Linked DNA regions of Homo sapiens: regions 2, 3, 4, 5, 6 and 7 are each reported to be linked to region 1. The links are microRNA targets in miRTarBase. Many come from high-throughput screens and were not tested one by one. Region 1 holds a microRNA gene; each other region holds the end of a gene's coding sequence.
Evidence for each region. The annotated mature microRNA hsa-miR-19b-3p reads UGUGCAAAUCCAUGCAAAACUGA and lies in region 1 at 962-984, opposite strand. An mRNA with a match to its seed (bases 2 to 7 or 8) in the 3' UTR can be bound and repressed. Matches are read on the target gene's strand: a 7mer-m8 pairs with bases 2 to 8, a 7mer-A1 pairs with bases 2 to 7 and ends in A, and an 8mer does both.

Region 2: the mRNA of NUTF2 is a reported target of hsa-miR-19b-3p. The part of its 3' UTR that is shown has no 7-base or 8-base seed match.
Region 3: miRTarBase lists PATL1 as a target of hsa-miR-19b-3p. Seed matches in the 3' UTR shown: 8mer at 1,302-1,309 and 8mer at 1,745-1,752.
Region 4: the mRNA of VAMP3 is a reported target of hsa-miR-19b-3p. Seed matches in the 3' UTR shown: 8mer at 2,232-2,239.
Region 5: the mRNA of TNIP1 is a reported target of hsa-miR-19b-3p. Seed matches in the 3' UTR shown: 7mer-m8 at 986-992.
Region 6: miRTarBase lists PRICKLE2 as a target of hsa-miR-19b-3p. Seed matches in the 3' UTR shown: 8mer at 2,287-2,294.
Region 7: the mRNA of ZNF772 is a reported target of hsa-miR-19b-3p. Seed matches in the 3' UTR shown: 7mer-m8 at 818-824.

Annotation. Positions count from the first base shown.
Region 1 is chrX:134,168,722-134,171,817 of GRCh38, forward strand. It overlaps MIR19B2 (microRNA 19b-2), which reads right to left and starts at 1,045; the gene lies at 950-1,045. It overlaps MIR106AHG (miR-106a-363 cluster host gene), which reads right to left. Exons shown (of 2, transcript XR_007068340.1): 1 at 2,948-3,096; 2 at 429-1,631. MIR363 (microRNA 363) reads right to left here and starts at 731; the gene lies at 657-731. It overlaps MIR92A2 (microRNA 92a-2), which reads right to left and starts at 891; the gene lies at 817-891. It also overlaps MIR20B, MIR18B and MIR106A.
Region 2 is chr16:67,870,389-67,873,484 of GRCh38, forward strand. NUTF2 (nuclear transport factor 2) reads left to right here. Exons shown (of 5, transcript NM_005796.3): 5 at 412-2,179. The coding sequence ends at 525. EDC4 (enhancer of mRNA decapping 4) reads left to right here and starts at 2,664. Exons shown (of 29, transcript NM_014329.5): 1 at 2,664-2,955. The coding sequence starts at 2,874. RefSeq lists a silencer at 2,777-2,986 and an enhancer at 2,880-3,096.
Region 3 is chr11:59,635,702-59,638,797 of GRCh38, reverse strand. It overlaps PATL1 (PAT1 homolog 1, processing body mRNA decay factor), which reads left to right. Exons shown (of 19, transcript NM_152716.3): 19 at 387-2,082. The coding sequence ends at 408. Among named protein-coding and RNA genes, the nearest start is that of OSBP, 21 kb to the right of the region's middle.
Region 4 is chr1:7,778,982-7,782,077 of GRCh38, reverse strand. It overlaps VAMP3 (vesicle associated membrane protein 3), which reads right to left. Exons shown (of 5, transcript NM_004781.4): 5 at 646-2,452. The coding sequence ends at 2,433. Among named protein-coding and RNA genes, the nearest start is that of PER3, 3.8 kb to the left of the region's middle.
Region 5 is chr5:151,027,973-151,030,972 of GRCh38, reverse strand. TNIP1 (TNFAIP3 interacting protein 1) reads left to right here. Exons shown (of 18, transcript NM_006058.5): 18 at 226-1,028. The coding sequence ends at 260. GPX3 (glutathione peroxidase 3) reads right to left here. Exons shown (of 5, transcript NM_002084.5): 5 at 1,985-3,000. The coding sequence ends at 2,843. Among named protein-coding and RNA genes, the nearest start is that of GPX3, 8.9 kb to the right of the region's middle.
Region 6 is chr3:64,096,565-64,099,660 of GRCh38, forward strand. It overlaps PRICKLE2 (prickle planar cell polarity protein 2), which reads right to left. Exons shown (of 8, transcript NM_198859.4): 8 at 1-3,096. The coding sequence ends at 2,487. It overlaps PRICKLE2-AS1 (PRICKLE2 antisense RNA 1), which reads left to right. Exons shown (of 3, transcript NR_045697.1): 3 at 359-3,096. Among named protein-coding and RNA genes, the nearest start is that of PRICKLE2-AS2, 5.4 kb to the right of the region's middle.
Region 7 is chr19:57,470,493-57,473,588 of GRCh38, forward strand. ZNF772 (zinc finger protein 772) reads right to left here. Exons shown (of 4, transcript NM_001144068.2): 4 at 1-3,096. The coding sequence ends at 2,782. Among named protein-coding and RNA genes, the nearest start is that of ZNF772, 5.5 kb to the right of the region's middle.

The DNA of each region.
Region 1 (3,096 bases):
TAACAGTAGGCCCACATCCAGGTTTCCATCTGCTAGACTCCAAAGCAAGGCAGCAGCCATCCCTCTCAGTAGCCCTGCCACCAAATCCTCTTCTCCGAGAACCCCAAAACAGAGTTTGATTGACAAGTTCATTCTTCTCTCCTGTCAGACCTCAAAATGTGCCCAGTTCCTTAAAGGTATGTGTCCCATTGGTTTACAACTCTTCATTCCCTTCCTAAGAATGAGCACGTGTACTAAAACAAAATTAGTACATGTCATCCAAATATTGTCAGGGTAATAAAATTCCTAAAATTAGGCATCTTGGTGCTTTATGTAGATGCAAACTTGAAAAGCAGCTATGTCCAAGTTTTCCTTTAGGATCCTCCCAAGAGATATTTTACAAACTCCTCTAGCATTGCTAATTATTTTTTTTAAAAAAAAAAGAGTCATTTTTTCAGATCTATAAATTTCATTTATTTTGAGGTTCATTCACATTCAGTAACAATCTGATCATTCACCAAAGTTCCAAAACACATACTTTATAAATTAGCTATCATAGTTTTTAGAAATCCAAATATATTTCAAATTATTTTTTAATAGCAGCAACTAGAGAAAGGATTTTTTACCATCTAGCTTACTGTAGCGCTGATCAGGAATGTCGCCAACAAAGGTCCTGCGGTTTACAGATGGATACCGTGCAATTTTTCTCCTATGATACTCATCAAAATTGCATCGTGATCCACCCGACAACAGCAAAACAGATCATTTTACAATGACTAAATATCAGAACTTACGGCTTTTAAAAGTTAAAATAAGAAGACGATAAAAATCCTCCTTTCTTCCACAGGCCGGGACAAGTGCAATACTTTATATAGAACACAAGTAATGCAACAAATCCCCACCCAGGGATGAATGGGCATGAGTGCTGGAGATACGCATGAAGGTGTGTTCACACAGACGTAGGAAGCACACATTATCACAATCAGTTTTGCATGGATTTGCACAGCCACATATACATATATACGCTGAAATGCAAACCTGCAAAACTAATTGTAAGTAGCAATGTCTTTGAATATTCTCTCCATCAACAAGAGATTTGTTATCCAAGAGTACTGGAAGTGCCCATACTACAGTAGAGTCATGCCAAAACTACCTGCACTATGAGCACTTTGGTACTACTAGGACCCAATCTTATCCTCTGTACACAACTGTACACTGCACAGTCCCCACCATCTGTTCCCAACAAACAATAAAAAGGCAAAAAACAAACCACTGAAATGTGTCCTATTCAAATTACTACTCAAGGCATACTTTTAAAATGCTGTATATTAGGCAGCCTGTGCCAGAAGGGGCATTTAGGGCAGTAGATTCTAAGCTGCTTCACTAACTGCACTAGATGCACCTTAACACAAGAGACACATTATAAGAAGCAGCTCAAAAGCATCAACTACTTAATTATGCACAAACTACAGTTCTCAGTAGCCATTGACTAAATCACCATGGTAATGTAAGAAGTGCTTACATTGCAGTAGATCTCAAAAAGCTACCTGCACTGTAAGCACTTTTACATGGCCAAGGCCTATTCCTGTAGCAAAATTTTAAGTCTTCCAGGAGCTCTTCTTTTCCGTCCTCACAGATCCATGCAGACTCACCTGGTTAAAACAACAAAACAAACACACACATATTAGAAACTAAACAAGTAAACTACTAGTTAATATTCCTGAAACAGGCTTTCCTTTGGCTTACAGAGTCTAAGCTAGGTTTTGTGGTTTCAACCAAATCCTGAGAAATATTAATAATCTCAATTATTTACACAGAATTGAACACGAATAACACTGGCAACTGCAAAAAGTCCAATTCTTATGTATAAGCAGATTTTGGACTCCCCCTCTCCATCTAAGAAAATTTGATATCTGCATCTCAGTAATTTGCAGGCACATTCTATCCACCCTGATTTTATAAGAGGAGGACCTAGAGAAAGGAGCATGTAAAACCCAGGATGAGTATTCGAGTCTTCAGATCATTCAGAGCTTTTGGGCTCCATACGGAAAGTGACTGTTAGATTAAATGAATATTCCCAGCCCCCACCCCATTAATAGAAAATGAGAGAAATTTTAGAGCTGGTTTAAGAAACACAGCCTTACAGTCTTCACATAATGCACAGATGGCTGAGAGATGTCACATTTTGATCTATTTCAAAGGGCTCTACTTCTGTTTAAACATTTATGGACCCATTTTCTCCATTAAACCAAAGTAGGCAGATTAGCTCTTCTTCCCTTCATGTCATTATCTTCCATAAGAAAACCTTCTCCCATTTCCAAGTGCTTATTTTACCTAAGAACATACAGCAAGGAAGTGAGCCTCTATGTGAAAAAGGCTCACAGGGTCCCCTATCTCTTCCATGATGGGGTAACTTTTGTTTAAAAGAAAAACAAAAACGTTTGGGACAGAATCTGTAATACGTTAAACGAGTGAGGGAATTTTAAATGTTGAACTTTCGTCACGATATCTTATGCCACTAAATGAGTCTTTAGAAGTCTTTACAAACTAAACTGATTTATAAAACTTATACATCAATCTGGAATCAATTTTCTATTAGGGAAGAATGGATTTAGTATAGAAATGAGAAAAATAACATTTTTCCCCTTAAATTGGGTTTCTACACCTGTGAAGATTTCTTTTCCATTAAAAAAAAAATACTCCAAACTTGACTCAAAATGCATAGTATTTGCCAACCCAACCTGGCCAAACTGAGCCCCACAGCCATCAGACAGGGCGCCCTTCTAGTTACTACCTTTTGCTAATTAGCGGTTCATCTGGCATCCCTCGCGCACGCTGGGCAGTCACTCTCCAATCCCCTTAAATTGCAAATAATAATAATAATAATAAGGAAAAGAAAGAAAGAAGTCCTTCCCTGTACGCCTTTGTGGCTCCCTTTTGCCTCTTCCCGCGTCTCTCACACCCTTACCTAATGCTCCCGTTGAAGTCCGCGAGCAGCCCGCGCGTCCAGGGTGTGCTCCAGCTGCTCACACCACGCGCTCCAGTCCTCGTGCAGCCTCAGCCGCCGCCGAAATTAAAGAGAAAGAAACAAAGCATCATGGGAAACGGAGTTCTCCA
Region 2 (3,096 bases), not on the chromosome of region 1:
AGTGAACCTATGTTTTCAAGATTGTTTGCAGTTTTTTTGATACTCTATAAGTTACTTGGTAAATACTATGGGATTCGTTTCAAAATTGTGATCACTTGTGTCTGGAGATATGTGCTTGGAGGCAGGTACATCCTCTGCTCTTTTGCTGTAGCTAAGGGTGAATTATTGTGCAGTTTAAGCACACATAGCACACATAGGCGTGGCTGATTGTTGGCCTACATGTGCCCAGGGCATTGTTTCATACATTACATCAATTCACATTCACAAGTACCCCTTGGCTACACTGGGATTTGAGTTCAGGACAGTAGGGCCTGATCCTAAAGTCAACATTTTTTTGCCCTCTTCTCCTACCACTGAATTCCCTTCCTGTTTCTTGATCCCCTTACTGAATCCTCTTTTCTCTCCTCATAGGCGGATGAAGACCCCATCATGGGGTTCCACCAGATGTTCCTATTAAAGAACATCAACGATGCTTGGGTTTGCACCAATGACATGTTCAGGCTCGCCCTGCACAACTTTGGCTGACCTCCTCTCAGCTAGGCACTCACGCTGTTTCCTCCTCCCTCCTCTTCCCAATACTATTCCCACTCCTCCAGATGCTCCAAATATCATGCACAAATGAGCAGGGCCGCGGTGGGAGTGGGCGCAGTGCGCTGCTGCCACTGAGGTGTTGTGCATGATGTTTGGATGCTAGACTAGTTGCATCTGACGGGAGAAGTTTGTGTTGTACCAGCGCATGCCTTGGAAAGACTTAAGTAATGCAAAAGGTTGTCCTTTTTTTTTTTTTTTTTTTTTTAATCTACTGACAAGTTGCTCTAGTAACCCAAAGAAGTGAAGGAGAAAGCAGCTGCCTCACCGCCCAGACATTGATTTGTTCAGATGTTTCAATGCCTCATGATACAATAAAACCACAAAAATTTTCTTAACAGTTTAAATTGTTTTAATTAGTTTACTAGTTGGCTGGGCATCAGAAGCTACCCAGACCCGTTGTCTCTCTCATGTTTCACCCTCCCACTTCTGCCCCAACTCTGAATACCTGTTGCAGGGAGAAACTGCTGAAGCAGCACTCCCAGCTAGCCTCTCAGAAGCCGTGTAGGGCAGTTCTCTCCCACTCCACAGGGCGACTGGTCTTTGGAAAGCAGGCAGGAAGAGCTCAGGTCTGGCCTGAAGCTTCTCTCACTGAAGCCTGTGCAGTCAGTTCTGATACCTCCTGTGACTTCTGCTCTGGGTAGGTTCAGGGCCCTAGTAGCAGGAGAGATGATCCTGAATCCTGTTGAAGCTGGAGAGGCCTTGGCAAAATGGCTCATCACGTTCAGGCCCTCCGGGCTGAGTTGTCAGCAGTATCAAGGGAGGGGCCTGCTCTATCCCCAGAAGGATCAGGATCATATCCAGGATGCCCCACATACACCAAGCCAGGCAGAGGGCAGCTCAGCTCCTGTCCCATCTGCTTTGGATATCTTTACCCAAAGGCAGGTAACCCGAAGAGCCAGCCTCCACTGCCCACAGAGCCAGGCCCAGTTGTGTTGGAGTATAGGTCAGGAGCTGTGGAAGGAGGCAGTCTGTGAGGGACTCATGCTTTAGGAGTCCTCACCCCTCAGACTGCTGCAGGACATTGCCAGGCCTCTCTCCACTTCCTTCCTCAGCATACAGACTTCATGCTATCTTCCAATTCCGGGGAGTCTTAGCTATTAGGGCAGTTTCTGCTTCTCCATTTTGGGGACAAAGGCCTTGCCCAGTACAAATCTAGCCCCTTGTCCCACAGACTTCTGGATGGTATAAACCTAGTGGCAATGTAGCAACCATAGGCTAGAACCAAACCCAAGATTTGGGTCAGTGCCCTGTTAAGGGTTTTAGGATTGGTAAGGACACCACAGCTAAATCTGACATGTAAAAGGATACCCTTCCCCTGTCCCACTACGGGTGGAGGCTAAGGACCTCCTCAGATCCCACAGATTGCCTGGTGACATTGGGCACAGGGCTGGATGGTGTGCTGTTTGAGAGGACAGCATGCTCAGGAGATTTCAGTGGGAATGATCTCTAGGCTGATGTGTATTTGGGGAAGTGGGGGTGGGGAAGAGGTAGGTGCCTGCTGCCTCAAACCACCTTGTGTAAAATCTGCAATACGGCTTCTTCCATGTACCTGTGCCTGAACTGTCTGCAATAAAGAAGAATTTGTAAACTGTGGTTTCTTTCTTCCAACCTGAGGGTGCCAGGTGGGACAAGGGGATGCTGGGGGACAGTAGGGAACAATGACTGGTCATTGTAGTGGGATCATCTCCCCTGCTCTTGCAATTCCTGAGTTTTATGACCTCGAGGGTAGCCTCAGGCCTTGAGTTATTCCGACCCATTCCCAAAGGGAACCTGAGGCACCTGCCAATTCAGCATATTCTGGGGGTCTGAGGGACCTTAGCATGGGCGGCTAAGTTGACCCCGTCCCAGGACCATCGGAGTCCATGCTCTGGGAGTGGGCAGGGACCTGGCGCCTTCTGAGTCGAGTAGGGCTTTAGGTGGCCCAGTGCGTGGACGCTTACTTCAGCCCCGTGGGACTTTCCTGACCTCGCGGACACAGGGGCGGGGCCGCCGAGGGGGACTGGCTGCGGGAGGGGTTTAGGCTTCCGCCCCCAGCCCGGAACCTTTCTTCTCCGGCCCTGGCAGGTTCCGGGAGCCTCGGCTCGTGGGTGCCGGAAGTGGAGGCGGTTGGTGGGGTTGGCGGGGCTCAGCGACGCTGCGCGGGTGGCGGTTTGCGAACTGCGGGTGGACTGTGTAGTGACCGGCGTCCCGCTGTCTCGCCCCGTGGCGGGTGAGCGAGGGTGCGTGGTGCGCGGCGGCGGCGGAACGAACGCGGTGCGGGCGGGGCGCCCGCCGCAGGGCCCATGGCCTCCTGCGCGAGCATCGACATCGAGGACGCCACGCAGCACCTGCGGGACATCCTCAAGCTGGACCGGCCCGCGGGCGGTGAGCGGGGGTTGCGGGGGTGGGCCCCAGGCGAGCTGACAAAAGGGCGGCGCGCGTCTGAACCGCCATTGGGGCCCACAGCTCCCTTAGGACTAGCTCTGGATCCTCCCGGCGGGTAAGGGTGGACGGGGATTGACTGTG
Region 3 (3,096 bases), not on the chromosome of region 1:
GAGGTATGAAAATCATTTAAACCCGGGAGACAGAGATTGCAGTGAGCTGAGATCACGCCACTGCACTCCAGCCTGGGTGACAGAGCAAGACCCTGTCTCAAAAAAAATAAATAAAAAGAAGTTATGATTGGGGTGGAGGGGGGAATAAAACTGAATTTGGTGGAAGAGATTGACTTTTTATTAACTATTTGTGTATCTGTTAGATATAAAACACTGAACTGGGTACAACAGGGCCTTCATAAAAGATGACCAAATGCTAAGGGTAGAGAAATAATCTCGGGTATTTTGTTATGAGAAGTCTTACAAAGATGTAACTGTAATATGAAAGATTGCCTTCTGTTTTAACTCATTTATACAATTTTCCTTTCTCTCCTTTGTACTCCTAGGCTAGTTCAGGGGATACGATAAAAGATCTCCAAATGTGTCCTGTACCTCCTTTTGGCTGCCACCTGCACTGCTGCCATCACCAATGGAGTGTTTTTAATGAGGGAAGGAAGGTAGCTTTTTCCCCAAAGCAAAGTCTTGTGGGATCGATTCCTGTTTACAGGGGTTGTCTCTCTAAATGTCAGATATTTCCCCACTGCTCTATGAAATTTGGCTGGGTGATACTTCTGCTGGTTTCTTTACCTTCTGTGTTACAGTTCTGCATGTCCTACTTTTACTCAGTTCTGTTTTGCATTTTCTTTGCCCTAGAGACACAAGTGTAATCTCTCCCTTTATCCCTCCACTACTCCACCTCAGAGTAGATTGTAGCCTGCCAAAGGATTCCTTCCCTCATCCTATTGAAGTTGTTTTTTCATTGCCCCATATTAATATGACTATAGAAGAGCCAATTAAGTAGAAATCAAGATATACACACACACATAGATACACACACACACACCCCATACATGTATTTATGTGGTCTTCAGAGGGTCCTTAAAGAATGAATTTTAGATTGAAAAATATTTAGTTGTCTCATTACCTCTTCTAAACACAAACCAGCTGATGTATTTTAATCTGTTTCTGTTCTATCTTGTAATTAATTTGGTGGGTTCTACTTGTTTTAACATAAATAAAGAGTATGCAGCACGTTTAATAAAATCAGAACTCTTAATTGGCTTATGCCCAGGTCTAGGCTGAGAAGTCCTTTTTCTTCTTCCCACCTTTATTTCCTTAGTTTCTGTCCACCTTAATCGAAACAACACATGGTTATGTCTTTTTCCTGCTACAACTACAGGGTACTTGAGCCTTTCCCCTCAAGTGCATTCGAAGTCACCCAGGATGATCCTCACTAGTAGCCTGCTTTGGCAGTGTGGCTTTTTGCACACTTGCCCTGTCTTCCTGAGACTACTTCAGTAAGCCATGCTTCCTTCTTCCCCACTTTTATTTGGTGTCATGAATAGAAACTTCCAAATGTAACCATGGAAGCTAAGTTTGGCCTGCTTTGCTTTTTAGTCTCCACACCATGGGCAGAACTGCTGTCTTTACTACTTCATCTCACCCAAGTCCCGTTCCCAGGCAGCCAGGGGCCTGGGTTTGAATAATTGCAGGGCCAGCCTGCCATGATCTTTCTCACTTACTCCTCTCCCATTCAGCAATCAACCAGACTAAGGAGTTTTGATCCCTAGTGATTACAGCCCTGAAGAAAATTAAATCTGAATTAATTTTACATGGCCTTCGTGATCTTTCTGCTGTTCTTACTTTTTCGAATGTAGTTGGGGGGTGGGAGGGACAGGTTATGGTATTTAAAGAGAATAAACATTTTGCACATACATGTATTGTACAACAGTAAGATCCTCTGTTAAAACCAGCTGTCCTGTTCTCCATCTCCATTTCTTCCCATGCTGTAACCCCAGGCTCCACCAGCTGTTCCCCAGTGATGTTACCTAGCTTCCCTCTACCGTTGTCTACTGACCATTTCCACTACATGCCTTTCCTACCTTCCCTTCACAACCAATCAAGTGAATACTTGATTATTATCTCTTCCTTACTGTGCTTTATCTTTTTTGTTTGGATTGGTTCTAATTAATGAAAATAAAAGTTTCTAAATTTACATTTTTATAGGGTATTGTAAATAAAAACAAATTGTATACTTAAAAATGAGTGCCTGCATTTCTACTTTGTTACCTCTGAATATGATTTTTATGTTTCTAGCATATTTAGATAGACTGTCAACTTCTTGATGTAGGGGATTAAAGATATTATTACCTATATTTTTACCTTTTTAATTTTGTTGCAAAGAAGACAAATATTTTTATATAATAACTTGTCTTTAAAAATCTAAGATGCTTTCAGTTTCTCCTCCCCCCATTTTAACTGTACGACAAAATTATAAATTGTAGTAGATAAACTGTAGTTTGTCTTCTCCATCCTGCCCATCTCTAGGCATTGAGGAATCTGTCCCCCTTTAAGAGACTCATGTAGCCCAATGAGGCATTCAGCTGCCTTCATGGATAGTATTTACTTAGTTCTGAGCATATTGTATTTCAAAACTCATCTCTTCAAAGGAGATGGGAAAAGGTTGGTCATTCTTTATAGTGAATTTATTTTTATTATTTCAGACTTGAGTATCATTTTTACTCTAAAATGCTCAAGATAAAAGATTCAGCAAACACATAGAAAGGGGCAAAAAAAAGTGGGGTTTTGTTTTCAAGACAGGGCCTGTGTCACTCAGGCTGGAGTGTAGTGGCACAGTAGCACAATCACCACTCACTGCAGCCTCGATCTCCCAGGCTCAAGTGATCCACCTCAGCCTCCCGAGTAACTGGGACTACAGGTGTGCACCACCACACCTGGGTAATTTTTATACTTTTTGTAGAGTCGGGATCTCCCTATGTTGCCCAGGCTGGTCTTGAACTCCCAGGCTCAAGTGATCTTCCCACCTTGGCCCCCCAAAATGCTGGGAGTACAGGTGTGAATCACTGCACTCAGCCTGAAGGTTTTCTTCTTTTTCTGAGATGAGTTTCTCTGTCACCCAGGTTACAGTGCAGTGACACAATCATGGCTCACTGCAGCCTCTACCTCCCAGGCTCAAGCAGTTCTCCCACCTCAGCCTCCCAAGTAGCTGGGAATACTACAGGCGGGTGCCATCATGCCCAGCTAAATTTTTTGATT
Region 4 (3,096 bases), not on the chromosome of region 1:
TGGAGTACCTTGCTTGGAGAAGAGAGAGCTGGAGAGTCGTGTGACATGAAGTCAGAAAACTAGAAAGGACCAGATCATCGTGGGACCTGTAATTCGGGAAAGGGACTTGGATTTTCCTATTGTAAACATAAGCAAAAGTCCTCTTCCACCCGTATTATATTGTTTCCTAGGGGTTCTACGATAAGAATGGAAATACATTCATGAGGAAAAAAGGATCTACAGGAACAGAGCCATGTGTCTGGGGATGTCCCTCACCTATCCACTCATCTATCCCAGGGTCCATGCCAGCAGCCATCTAGTCTACCACAGACGGGGTCGGCTCTGCACATCACTTTAGAAAGACCATCTATTTAGGGAACTCCAAAGCCACATCCTGAATTTTGGTAATTGTGTAAAAGCCAGTTTCCTCCTCATCGCCTATACTAAAAAGCACTTTTCACAAGGGGAGCGGTTTTCTTCTGTTCACTGGGGTATGCGGAAATGCTGGGTACCAAAAGGGTAGAGTACCTAGAGAGGGGCTGGTGAGAAAAGGGGGAGACAGTTTCGGGGCTTCTAAGGGACAGGTATGGGGAGCAGCAAGGAATGGCATTTTTAGGACTCGGACCAGGTGCAGCTATTCCTCTACAAGGAGCACAGGTGCCACAATCATGTTTATAAACACTTTATTTAGGTGATTACAGTGGGTAAGTTCCCAGCTAAGTGCACAGATAGAAGCGAGGTATTTCTGGGTTAATGCAGGAGCCAGTGGGTTACATGGGTCTGGGCACTGTGGCCAAGGGGCGAGTACCAAGGTTTCTGAGTCAGACCCGGCCAGAGACCCTGCGCTGAAGGTGGACTAATGTCCTAACACTGCCAGCTGCTTTCTCCTCACAGCTGGCCACACCGCAAGGCATCTCTTCAACAGTAAATCATTTCAGCGATGTTAAGGGAACAGACGTTAAAGAAATGGAAGCTGTGTCCTGGTGCGCCTCAGCTGTTGCTGCTTTATAAGTCATAATAGCATGTGAACAAGAGTTTTAGAATATTCCAGTAACAATGAGCCACAGAGCGATAAAGTCTGTGTCTTTCTCCCTCAGTGCCTCCTTGCCTGTTTTCTTTCATACCTGAATTCCCATCTTTAAGCTGTGGATCCTGATGTTGAGTCTCATGCATACAAGAAAAGTTTTTCCGATGACAAAGTTTCTGCTTCCAGCATTCCCATCAACAGCATTCTCTGCAGTTGATGATATCAAAGCAAAGGTCTCTGGTTGGCTACTCTCTGTGAAAAGAGCCATTCACCCCTGACCAATGCCTAATTGCAGGCATAATTTAGAAAACTGATTTAGGAAGCAGAATGTGAATACAAATAGGAAACAAACTCCAAAGTTATAGTTTATCTTCATATTTGGGCCAGATAATGATCAAGTTCACAGGTGGTCTTACTTGAGGCTACAGAATTGTTGCTTGCATAATTATCAGAAACATGCTGGAGTCCACAGCTGATAATCTGCCAACTGCTGGGTAGAACTCTTTTATGAGACGGTCAGAGTCTACCTCAAACCTTCTCTAACCCCCATGCAAAATACTGAATCAGAAGGGGAGCCACACTGTCTACAGCCTTTCAAAAGGAAGAAAGGCCTATGAAGATGTAGAAGGTTCACACACAAGGTAATGATTTTAATTCTGAAGGGGCACCTTGAGTTCCATTTGGCACGTTTCTGAATTTAACTGTCAGGAATACACTTAAGGCCATTTTATCGGTATTTAACTTTTTGGCAAAATAGAAGCTTTGGTCATAGCCATAGTTCTTTAAAAATTTTTTTAAAGAGGTTATCTCTGATTAAAACAATATTTTTAGCAAGTGATACATAACAATAACAACAATGTAAACATCTTCAAATCTAATGCAAGAGCAAAAGCTCTTCACCAGCATCTTAAATACAGCGAGAGTCAGTAGTGCTTACAAAAAGTAGAGGGTTCTCTTCTAGGGAATCAGAAAATTATCAAAATAAGGCACAGCCTGTTGTTATCACAGATTTGTGTTAGGCAGTAGTGTTTTTTTCTGGAAGGCATAAGTTGGAAATCTGATTACCCAAAGGTTTAAAATGTGGTTCTGAAAATAATGCCAAATGACAAGGGTAACTAACTGGGAGTAATGGCAATTAATTAGTGACAACATTACATCTAGATTATAGCACTCTGGAACTTAAGAAGGCCTCTTCATCAGCCCATACGTAAATCTGTAAAGGCACTGTGCAAAATGTGGACGGGGCCGGCCTTCTAATTTGGAGTGCATATTAAAAAACAAAGGCACGTTTCCTAGAAATTCAACTTTACATTAACACAAAAAAAATTTTAGAGATAACAGTAGGTAAGCTTGATAATATAGCAGGTTCTAAGTCAAAAGTCTTGAAGAGGTTTCTTGAACAGCAGTTTTGAGTTCCGCTGGTTCTTCATGAAGAGACAACCCACACTAAGAAGGAGGAGAGATGCAAAAAGGCAGGGGAAACAGCAGGTTAGTCTCTCAGTGTGAATCCCAAGCCAACATCCAATGCTGCAGTCTAAATGTGATCAGAAATTAGACTGGGCTGATTTCCTACTACTGGCTTCTCTCCATTCTATAGAGGGCTAGAGGAAGGAGACTAGAGTCAAAAGGATCCAAGTAACTGTACCTTCCTGCTAAAAGGAAACATCCACTAACATCCATCTATCAATGAAAGAAGTCATGTTTCGGTTCTCATATACTGGGCTACCGATGGCAGTGAGTTGTTTGAATATTATATAATAATAGTTGTGTGTGTGTTTGTGTATACATATATATTATTTATATAGCTATTATTTTTATTATTATATGCCAGGCACCAACCTAAGCAATTTTTATTTATTTTATTTATTTATTTTTTTGAGACGGAGACTTGCTCTGTCACCTAGGCTGGAGTGCAGTGGCATGATCTTGGCTCACTGCAAGCTCCGCCTCCCGGGTTCATGCCATTCTCCTGCCTCAGCCTCCCCAGTAGCTGGGACTACAGGCGCCCGCGACCACACCCGGCTAATTTTTTGTATTTTTAGTAGAGACGGGGTTTCACCGTGTTAGCCAGGATGGTCTTGATCTCCTGA
Region 5 (3,000 bases), not on the chromosome of region 1:
TAGTGTCCCAGTTCCCTCTTTTACAATGGGATAATAACCTGCCTTCTTCATAGGGCTGGGTGAAGATTACATGACCAGCGTACTTAAGGTACTTAGCCCTGGCACTTGGTAGCACCCAGTAACCCTAGCTGTTATTTTCACTGTTCCTGCACTGCATTCCATAAGAGACTTTGAAACTCGCTCTACCACATAATCATGAAGTCCTCAAAATTTTTGTTTATTTAGAGTCTCCAAAAAATGACCGTGAGGGGCCTCAGTGAGACCAGATTGTGTCATTTGGCTCCACCTTCATCTTGCAGAGCCAGCTGATCTCAGATTGCCAAGAAACTAGAAGCCACTTGCACGGTGTGGCCAGAGCCTCAGCTGGATGAGAGGCTGAGATGGGTGGCCAGCTTGTACACCAGTCCCTGAACTGAGCTGTTTACAGGACTGGGGAGGCTCCACCCAGAAGGCTTTCATTTGTACTCTGCTGGGAGTGACTGGGAAAAACTCCTTCCCTGCTGCTGAGTGGAGAGAGGCCTCATCCGGCTTTGACCCACCATCCGTTGCAGAAGCCTCCAGGAGCAGCAATCCTAAGAGTGGGAGGCAGCCAAGACCCCCTTCCTTCAAAACCTCCCGGAAGTGGTTTCAGGCCCTCTAGTTGCCATGACCAATTTGTGTGTGTGTTTAATTTTTGCTTCAAGCTCTGTAGCAGGACCTGCCCCACGCACACCCCTACCCCTCTGTGAGGAGCTGTGGGAAGTGTGGGTTTGTCTCCAGAACAGAAGAGAATGATGGATATTCTGGCTCTGGGGCCCTCTCCACCACCACTCACAGTAGCCTTGCTGAAGCCATCACAGATGGGAGAAGGCCATGCCAGCCACGTCCGCCGAGGGGCGCCAGCCTGAAGCTGCCAGGCCCTGAGGTTCAGACCCTGGACCCCATAGCTGGAGGCCTGTGGTGCCAGAAGCCCAGATTAGGGTGGCTGTCCATCCCTGGATAGCTATTTGCACGAATCATGGACATAAATCCAAGTTGAAGAAGATCAACATTCTGACTCATGTTCATTTATGCGCTAATGTTCCCCTGTCAACCCCCTGCTTTCCTGGGTCCCTCCTTCTGTTCCCCTTTTCTTCCTTTCCCTGAGATGGTCACCATTACTCTTGAGTAATGGTGACGTATCAGGGCCTCCCTGAGGGTAGGGCAACCGGGGCAGTGGAAGGAGCCTAGGCCAGGACTCAGGGGACTTGGGTTTAAATTCCAGTCCTGCCCCTCACTCATCAGGAGACCTGGGGCAAGGCGTGGCCCTTCTGTGAGCCTCAGTTTCCTCATCCGTCAAACAGAACACCTCATCTTAACCTCAGCTGACTTGGAGAACTGTGGGAGGGAATGAGAGTAGATCAGAACTGGTTTTATAAACTCCAAATGCTGAGTGAGAGAAGCAGAGTGGGCCAAGGTAGGAGCCAAAAAGCAGGGACTCAAAGCATTGTCTAATTTCTCTCTTTTTTTTTTTTTTTTTTTAAGAGACAGTCTGACTGTGTTGCCCAGGCTGGAGTGCAGTGGCTCTTCACAGACTCAGTCACGGCACACTATAGCCTCAAACTCCCGGGCTCAAGGGAGCCTCCCACATCAGTCTCCCAAGTAGCTGAAGGAGTGCGCCACTGCAGCTAACTATCAGGTTGTTGAAAAAGTAATTGCAATTTTTGCCCCTTTTTTGTGGCAGGGGGGCCTCCCTCATGAAGATGCCACCCCTAATAGGGCTACATGGCCCTTGCAGTCTGCCTTGGCTGATCTCAGGGAGAATTGTGGGGTGGGGAGGTAGCCTTGGATTTTGCCATATGGCGAAAACCGCAATTACCTTTGCACCCACTGTAAAAAGTTTTTGTTGTCATATTTGTTCTTTTCTCATCCTCCCCCCTTTACCCTGCCCCACCTTCTCCTCCTCACTTCCCACCCAGGCGGGGGCGGCCACCATTGAAGAAGCACCACACACAGTAGGCTCAGCTGCTGCAGAAAGGCTTTTACTGGGCAGACGGGGTGAGTCTCAAGCCAGTGGACCAGTGAGGGGTGAGGGCACGTCCTCCGAAGGAGCAGGGGTGGCATCCCTGCCCAGGGGCCTTAGCCTGAATGCACTAAGGGCTGGCCCCTCAGACAGGCTCAGGGGAGGTCCGCCCACAAGGGCTTTGGGCCCCTCCCTCATGAAGACGCCACCCCTGCCATGGGGTCCGTGGCCCTTGCTGTCACATCTGCCTTGGTTGATCTCAGGGAGGTTGATCTCTCTCAGGGAGAACTGTGGGGTGGGGATGTAGCCTTGGGAGGGCCCTTCAGGAAGTAGGAGTGGGGGGTTGGGGAGTGTGGTAGACCCAGAAACTTCTGGGGACGTCAGTCATAGTTACTAATATTTGGAGGCAGTGGGAGATGCTGGCCCCAAGGTTGAGGTATCAGTTAGAGCAGAACAATTGGACCTAGAGCTGGTTTTTCCTTTGGGTTTAGGTGTAAGTGAACTATTATCATTGGAGTGGAGAACTGGAGAGAAAGGGTTGTCACTGTCCAGCACTACACAGCTGCAGGCACACAGATGGTACACATTCCCAGAAAGACACATAGGTAGACACGTGGCTGTACACCCATGCACACACACACAATCACGCATACCTGTAGGCATGTGTGTAAACACCCACATGCACCCACACCCACATGCCTGGCAGTACACAGAACTGTATGCATCCATTTGTGCCAGGCTGGGGCCTTGAGTGATAGGAAAGGGGTCTGTGATGGGTAGATAGTGTGGTTGGAGACACGGATTTCTTCCTGAACAAAGTCCCTCCCCTACATGGTGGACATGGGATGAGACGGCCTTCAGTTACTTCCTCTTGACCCCCAGGGCTGCCTGCCGCCTCATGTAGGACAGGATGTCCATCTTGACGTTGCTGACCGTGGTCCGGTGGTGCCAGCGCATGATGGGTATACCATCTGGCCCCACCAGGAACTTCTCAAAGTTCCAGCGGATGTCGTGAACCT
Region 6 (3,096 bases), not on the chromosome of region 1:
AGGGAGGTAATCTTGCTAGTAGACAGTTTTACCCTGAAGCTTGTATGTCATTTCATCTCAAGCTCTGAGCAGTTCAGTGCCTGGATGCTCTCTGGGCATCTAGACTTATGCCTCCAGACCCCTCCGGGCACTGGCCATGTGTCAGTTTTTAGGCCACCTTCTTTCTGATGATGGTGGTTGAAGCTTTCTTTGAGAAAGGTAAGAGGTATTCTGAGAAAAACAGAGTTAGGAAGCAACTTTTACTGGGAGAATTTCTTTCACTGGATTTGGGGCCACAGAGGACAGACATATTTTCAACCGTTTGCTAAGATAAGTGATCTACTTTTCCCCCTCTCTTTTTCCAAAATTGCCTTTTTAGTTTCATCAATCAAGGAACTTAAAACTCCAAATTGGACTCGCACAATTTCTACCAGAAACCTGCCACTTTAGTAGCACGGTATTGCAAATTATTTCTTAATCAGTTTGCCAAGCAGTTTACAAACTTACTATACAAACGTAATAGAGTTAATTCTCCGGAGGCTCGGATAATTAATGAAGCATTTAGATATGAAGATAGCATGCGGAAAACAGCCACAACCAACATGTGCATTGCTTTTTTAAAAAAATCAGTGACAATGACAAATGTCATATTAATACCTGAAAAGCAAATTATTTTAATACATCCCGAATGGAGTGCCATTACCATGTCCTTTACAGCCTTCCTTTCCTCAGACCCATCTGGGACGGGGTCTGAAATGCCACTTTTGACATTCTCTCCATAAAAAATACTAGAAAATGTTAACTACTATACTGAAAAGAGATCACGCTCACCTCACCATGGCAGATGGCCACTGAGATACACCGGGCACTACATCGACAGTACATCTCACTACAGGTGGGTCATCCGATGGATTATTTCAACTGCCACAATCCATTAAGGGGAGGAGGAGGATGGAAGAAACCAAGTGCTTCATTTTTAACTGAAGCAAGGTAGGGAGTTTTATTTTACTATAAACAGCACAACCGTTAAATGTCTTCATTAAGCAAACTCACTTTTGAGCCCATTTTCTGACCAACAGTCCTCAAAGTTCAAAATGGAAATACCCTCCCAACAAAGCCTGTTTTTTTAAAGACATTGCACCACTGAAATCTCAGCAGCTCAACCTTCCTGGGTAATCCAGATACTCTGGTTACTAAGCTGGTTACACTGGACTCTTTCTACAATCTCTGGGAGCTCTTCGAGGTGGTTGTCACCTGTCCTCTGTTTCATTTCCAGTTCTTCTTTTCCCTGACCTGCCTTCAGATTCTCCTTTAACTTCTACCCTTGACCTGCCTTCTGTTTTCAAATAGCCTTGTTCCTTCTCCAGGCATGACATGTCACACACCGTCCCTCGCAGAGCCCCCTCAGAATCCTTCTGTCCCTCAATCCCAAATGCTTAAGTTCATTTGCTTTGAGGACAACCGGTTGTCAGGCTAAGGCAGCAGTTCTGTCTGCCTTGGTAAAGGAAAGCAGATAATACAATCCAGGAAACATGAGCACCAGAACATAATGCCACATTCAAAACAACGTCATGCTGACATCACACAATGGCACCACTCACAGTCACTTTTACTTTCCCCAAGGGATAGATCAACATTAAGTAACTTCAACATTCCCAGCAGGGATGGCATTTCTCACAGAATTTTACTGACACCGGTTGGTTTCTCTAATTGGCAAAAATTACATTTGCAATTTAAAAAAAAATTACTACCACTTTGTAGAAAATAAATTCTACTGAGGGTGGGAGCAGACTTAAGGATGGCTCCTTAAGATGGAACGGAGCATAAAATGCTTTGGGTCTAACAGTTATGTTTTTTCAGCCACAAAAAGCCAAATTGAATATGTTCCTTTGAAAAAGGTCTCACTGACATGTAACAAATTTGTATAGAAAAAAAAAAAAAAAAAAAAAAGGTGGTACCGGGCCACATTTCAATACTACTCAGAGACAATGGTGGATGTGCATGCAAGTCCCCACTGAGTCCTACGATATAGAAATTCCTTTGATATTACAAAATACAAAAATATTTTATCAGAACTCTCATTTACATTGCATTTACAATGGACATGTAAATAACTTAGTCTTGGGTCCTGGCTAATAAACAAATTACTTACTGAAAAAAGGGTCCTAAAAGTAAGAGAACCAGAGAGGATAAAAGCGAGCAGGAAACAATTTACCATCTTGAGAGATGGCAACTCAACACAGAACTGATGGGAAGGAAGTGACCAAGCCTGGCCTCGATAGAGTCTACTGTGTTTCCAAAGTGAAATGTGCAAATAATATTCAACATGCCAAGAACTGTGACTACCTATTGAGTCAACCTGTAACCTTGCCTCCATCTACTGACAGCATTTTCCCTTTTCTCCCCCATAAGCCACCCCCAAAAGCGCTTTAACATTTAAAACAGTGCAAGTTTCTGACTTTACATTCTTAGCTCCCATCTTCTCCCATTCCCTGATCCCAATCATATTAAGAAATGATACAGTTTTTGCTCTTCTGTCTTTTCCTGCTGTGCAACTGTCCTCTGCCACCTAATGTGGAAGATTTGGGGAGGCCGTAGGAGCTGTATTTGTGCAGCAGCTCATCGCTTGTGACGTATCGCAGGCGCGCTGGCTGGGGGATGGGTTCTCCTAGGAAATAGCCCTCGTTGTCAGACTCTGAAGAGGAGGAGCAGGTGGAACACCAATCATACTCGGCGAAGTAGGGTCCCCAGCGGTCCCCAAAGGCATTCTGCAAAGCCAGGTCCGACACAGTCCTAGGGCACTGGCCGTACAGGTCCCTCCGGGACCCATGCCCCATGCTCTCCTGGAAGCTCCGCTGGCGCATAAATTGGTCATAGTCCTCCCTGGCTCTCAGAGGGGGCCTATCTTTTAACCGGGAGATGGCCTCGCGTTCGCTGGCCAGGTGGAGGGCGTTGTCGGAGCGAGAGCGTCGGGAACGCCTGGACCTGTGAGGTCGGAAACGGCGGTTGTCGTCGCGTGAAGTAGCTCTTCTCCGGGTGCGTTCACTCATGGGCTGGATCCTCACGCCCTCCTGCCCTGGCAGCTTGCTGCCCGCCATCCCTCCATCAAAATCAAAG
Region 7 (3,096 bases), not on the chromosome of region 1:
AGCTTCCATGTTAAAAAGTAGCAAAAGAAATGAAATCCAATAAAAGCGGAAGGCATTAGTAAAACTCAAAATGGAAAAGAAAAATCCCAAAATATCAGAAAACAGAAAATTCAATAATACCAAGTACTTTAAGATCAATAAAATTGTAAAATTGATAAATCTCTACCCAAACCAATCAAGGTTAAAAGAAAAATATAGACATTACCAGTATCAGGAATAGAAGAGGTTGCACCACTACAAATTCTACAAGTATGAAAATAATATTTTGAAAAATTTGAGTACTTAAATAAAACAGAAAAACTCCTTGAAAGACACAAACCATCAAAGCTCACTCTAGAGATAGATGGATGGATGGAGTGACAAACAGATGGACGGACAGACAGATGTATATATAACTAGTATAGCCCTCCATCTACCATGGAAATCAAACTTGTAGTTAGATGCTGTCCTACAAAACACACTTCAGGGCCAGAGTGACAGACAGACAACACACACACAGACAGATGTACATATAACTTGTACAGCCCTCTATCTACCACAGAAATCAAACTTATAGTTAGAAACTTTCCTACAAAACAAACTCCAGGCCCAGACAGCTTCCTTGGTGAATTCTACCAAACATTTAAGGAAGAAATAATACCAATTATTCACAAACTCTTCCAGAGAGCTGAAGAGCAGGAATACTTCCCAACTTACTCTATAAAGCTGGCATTATGCTGATACCAAAGCCAAACCTGGGCAAGATATAAAATTACAAAGAAAAAAAAGCAAGCAAGCAAGAAAGAAAGTTAGGGACAAATATCACTCGTGAACATTGGTGCAAAACTTGTTACAAAAAAACAAAACAAAACAAAACAAAATAGCAAATCAAATTCAACAATATACTAAATGACTAATACATCATGACCAAATGGGAATTATTACAGAAATGCAAGGTTGGCTTAACATTTAAAAAAATCAGTCAATGTAATTCATATTAAACAACTAAAACAGAAAAAGAAAAAAACCATATAGGATTATGGTCACCAGAGTCCAAGAAAACGCCCCACAAATCCCTATTTTCACCTTTGTGTAGTTCTCTTCCACTTTTAACCAGGATTAGCTAGGGTTACTTATGAAATATAGCAGAAATGACGGCTCATCACTTTCAGTTTAAGGTAATGACAGATACTGTGGCTTTGTTCTTGTGTGAGTTCTCTCCTGGATCACTTGCTTTGAAACTATTTCTCTACAATGGAACACTCTTAGCAAAGTACAAATGAAAAGAAATGAACTATGAAACACAGAACACCACCATGAGCCTTAATTTCAGAGTTTAAGAAGCCAAAAACATTAGAATACATATTAAATTACTCTATCTCTGTAGAATTCTAGGAAATACAAACAAATCTACAGTGACAACGGATCAATAGTTGCCTGGGGATGGGTGAAGGAAAGGGAGAAAATATAAAAGGAATCAGGAAACTTTTGGTTTGAGAAGTGCCAACATGTATCAAAACTTATCAAATGGTACACTATAAATATGTGCAGTTTATTGCAAAAATGTTTAGACTGACTTCTGGACAGTAACCTTAGCCATAAGAGACACAGGTATGGAAATATTTCTGTAAACCCTCATAATGGAGCCAGAGTAATGGAAACACATGTGGATGTACCTTTAGAAGGGTCATATTCCCTATAGTTTGCTGCAGTTTTCTCATTCCTTTATTAATCTGGGTTTCTGCACCAACTATGATTCCTACCTGGGCCTTCTGGAGGACAGCCAATATCAACTGCCTACTGAAAAATAGACTTCAGAGATCTTGACATGTCCACTGAGTTCAAATTCTCCTCAAGAAGCCTTGGGAATATGAAGTATCTTCTGGGAACAAGGGACGTAATTCATGTTGCTCCCAGACACATTAGAGATTATCACAACAAATGCCCACTGCTTAGGGTGACCTCAATTACACAAAAAATCTTAACATATAGACCAAAAGATTAGGCCTACAAAGACTGGCATTCTTTCCTAGGAGAGCTGAAGCAGTCAAGTAAGTTAGCTTGACACTAGCATAAGAGCTAGTCTTTGCCATCCTACTATCACTTCAGAGATACAGATAGTTGGAGCTCTCACAAAAGCTGTTCTTCCCTTCATACTGGCTTAGCTCAATTCTGTTCTCAACCCAACCCACAAAGCGAACAGAATCCTCAAGATTTCAGATAGTCTAAAAATTAAGGCATTTGTTGCAAAACCAGAATATGAGGCAGCCAATTTCAGGTCAGGTGTCTTGAAGGCTAGAAAAATTCGTCCCAAGTGCCATGTGAGATCAACTATATCCATGAAGGGAAACCTCTGCCAGTGGTCAGCAGAACAAAGCTCCCATTTTTCTGGCTAAAACTGGGTCATGCTCATGCTTAAACCAGTAGTGGGGCAGAAAAAAAGTGAGAATCCTTGATGGCCTCAGGCTACTGATGATTCCCTCCAGGGAAGGGAATAGTACAGAGGTCTGTCTTTTGAAACACATTGGGGTTACTTTGGCACAAGGCAGGACTCTTCCAGCACAAAGACAGATGGCTTCTAACAGGCACTGCCTTGACGAAATTCCAGCAAGAGTCTAGAAAATTCAGCATAGCTCCAGAAGGCTTCCCATATAGCTGGCACTCGGAAGAACCTCCCCAGGGTGAGTGTTTGAGTGTATAAAGTTCTACTTCTGGCTGTCGGCTACACATAAAGGCTATGCTTGGAGCTTCTCTCTGATGTCAGTTATTATGTTGAACAAGGAAACGGAATTATCTCCCATCCTAAGGCCTTTCTCCAGTGTGAATTTTCCAGTGGCGGATGAGGGAAGCCCTCTGCCTGAAGGCCTTCCCACATTCACTGCACTTATATGGCCTTTCTCCAGTGTGAATTCTATGATGCTGAACAAGTACATGTTTGTGGCTAAAGGCTTTTCCACATTCACTGCACACATAAGGCTTTTCACCATTATGAACTCTTTGATGTGCAATAAGGTCAGAGCTTTGGCTAAAGAACTTCCCACATGCGATGCACTCATAAGGCCTTGCTCCAGTATGAACACTCCAATGTTTAATGAGTCTGTATTTGTGACCAAAGTA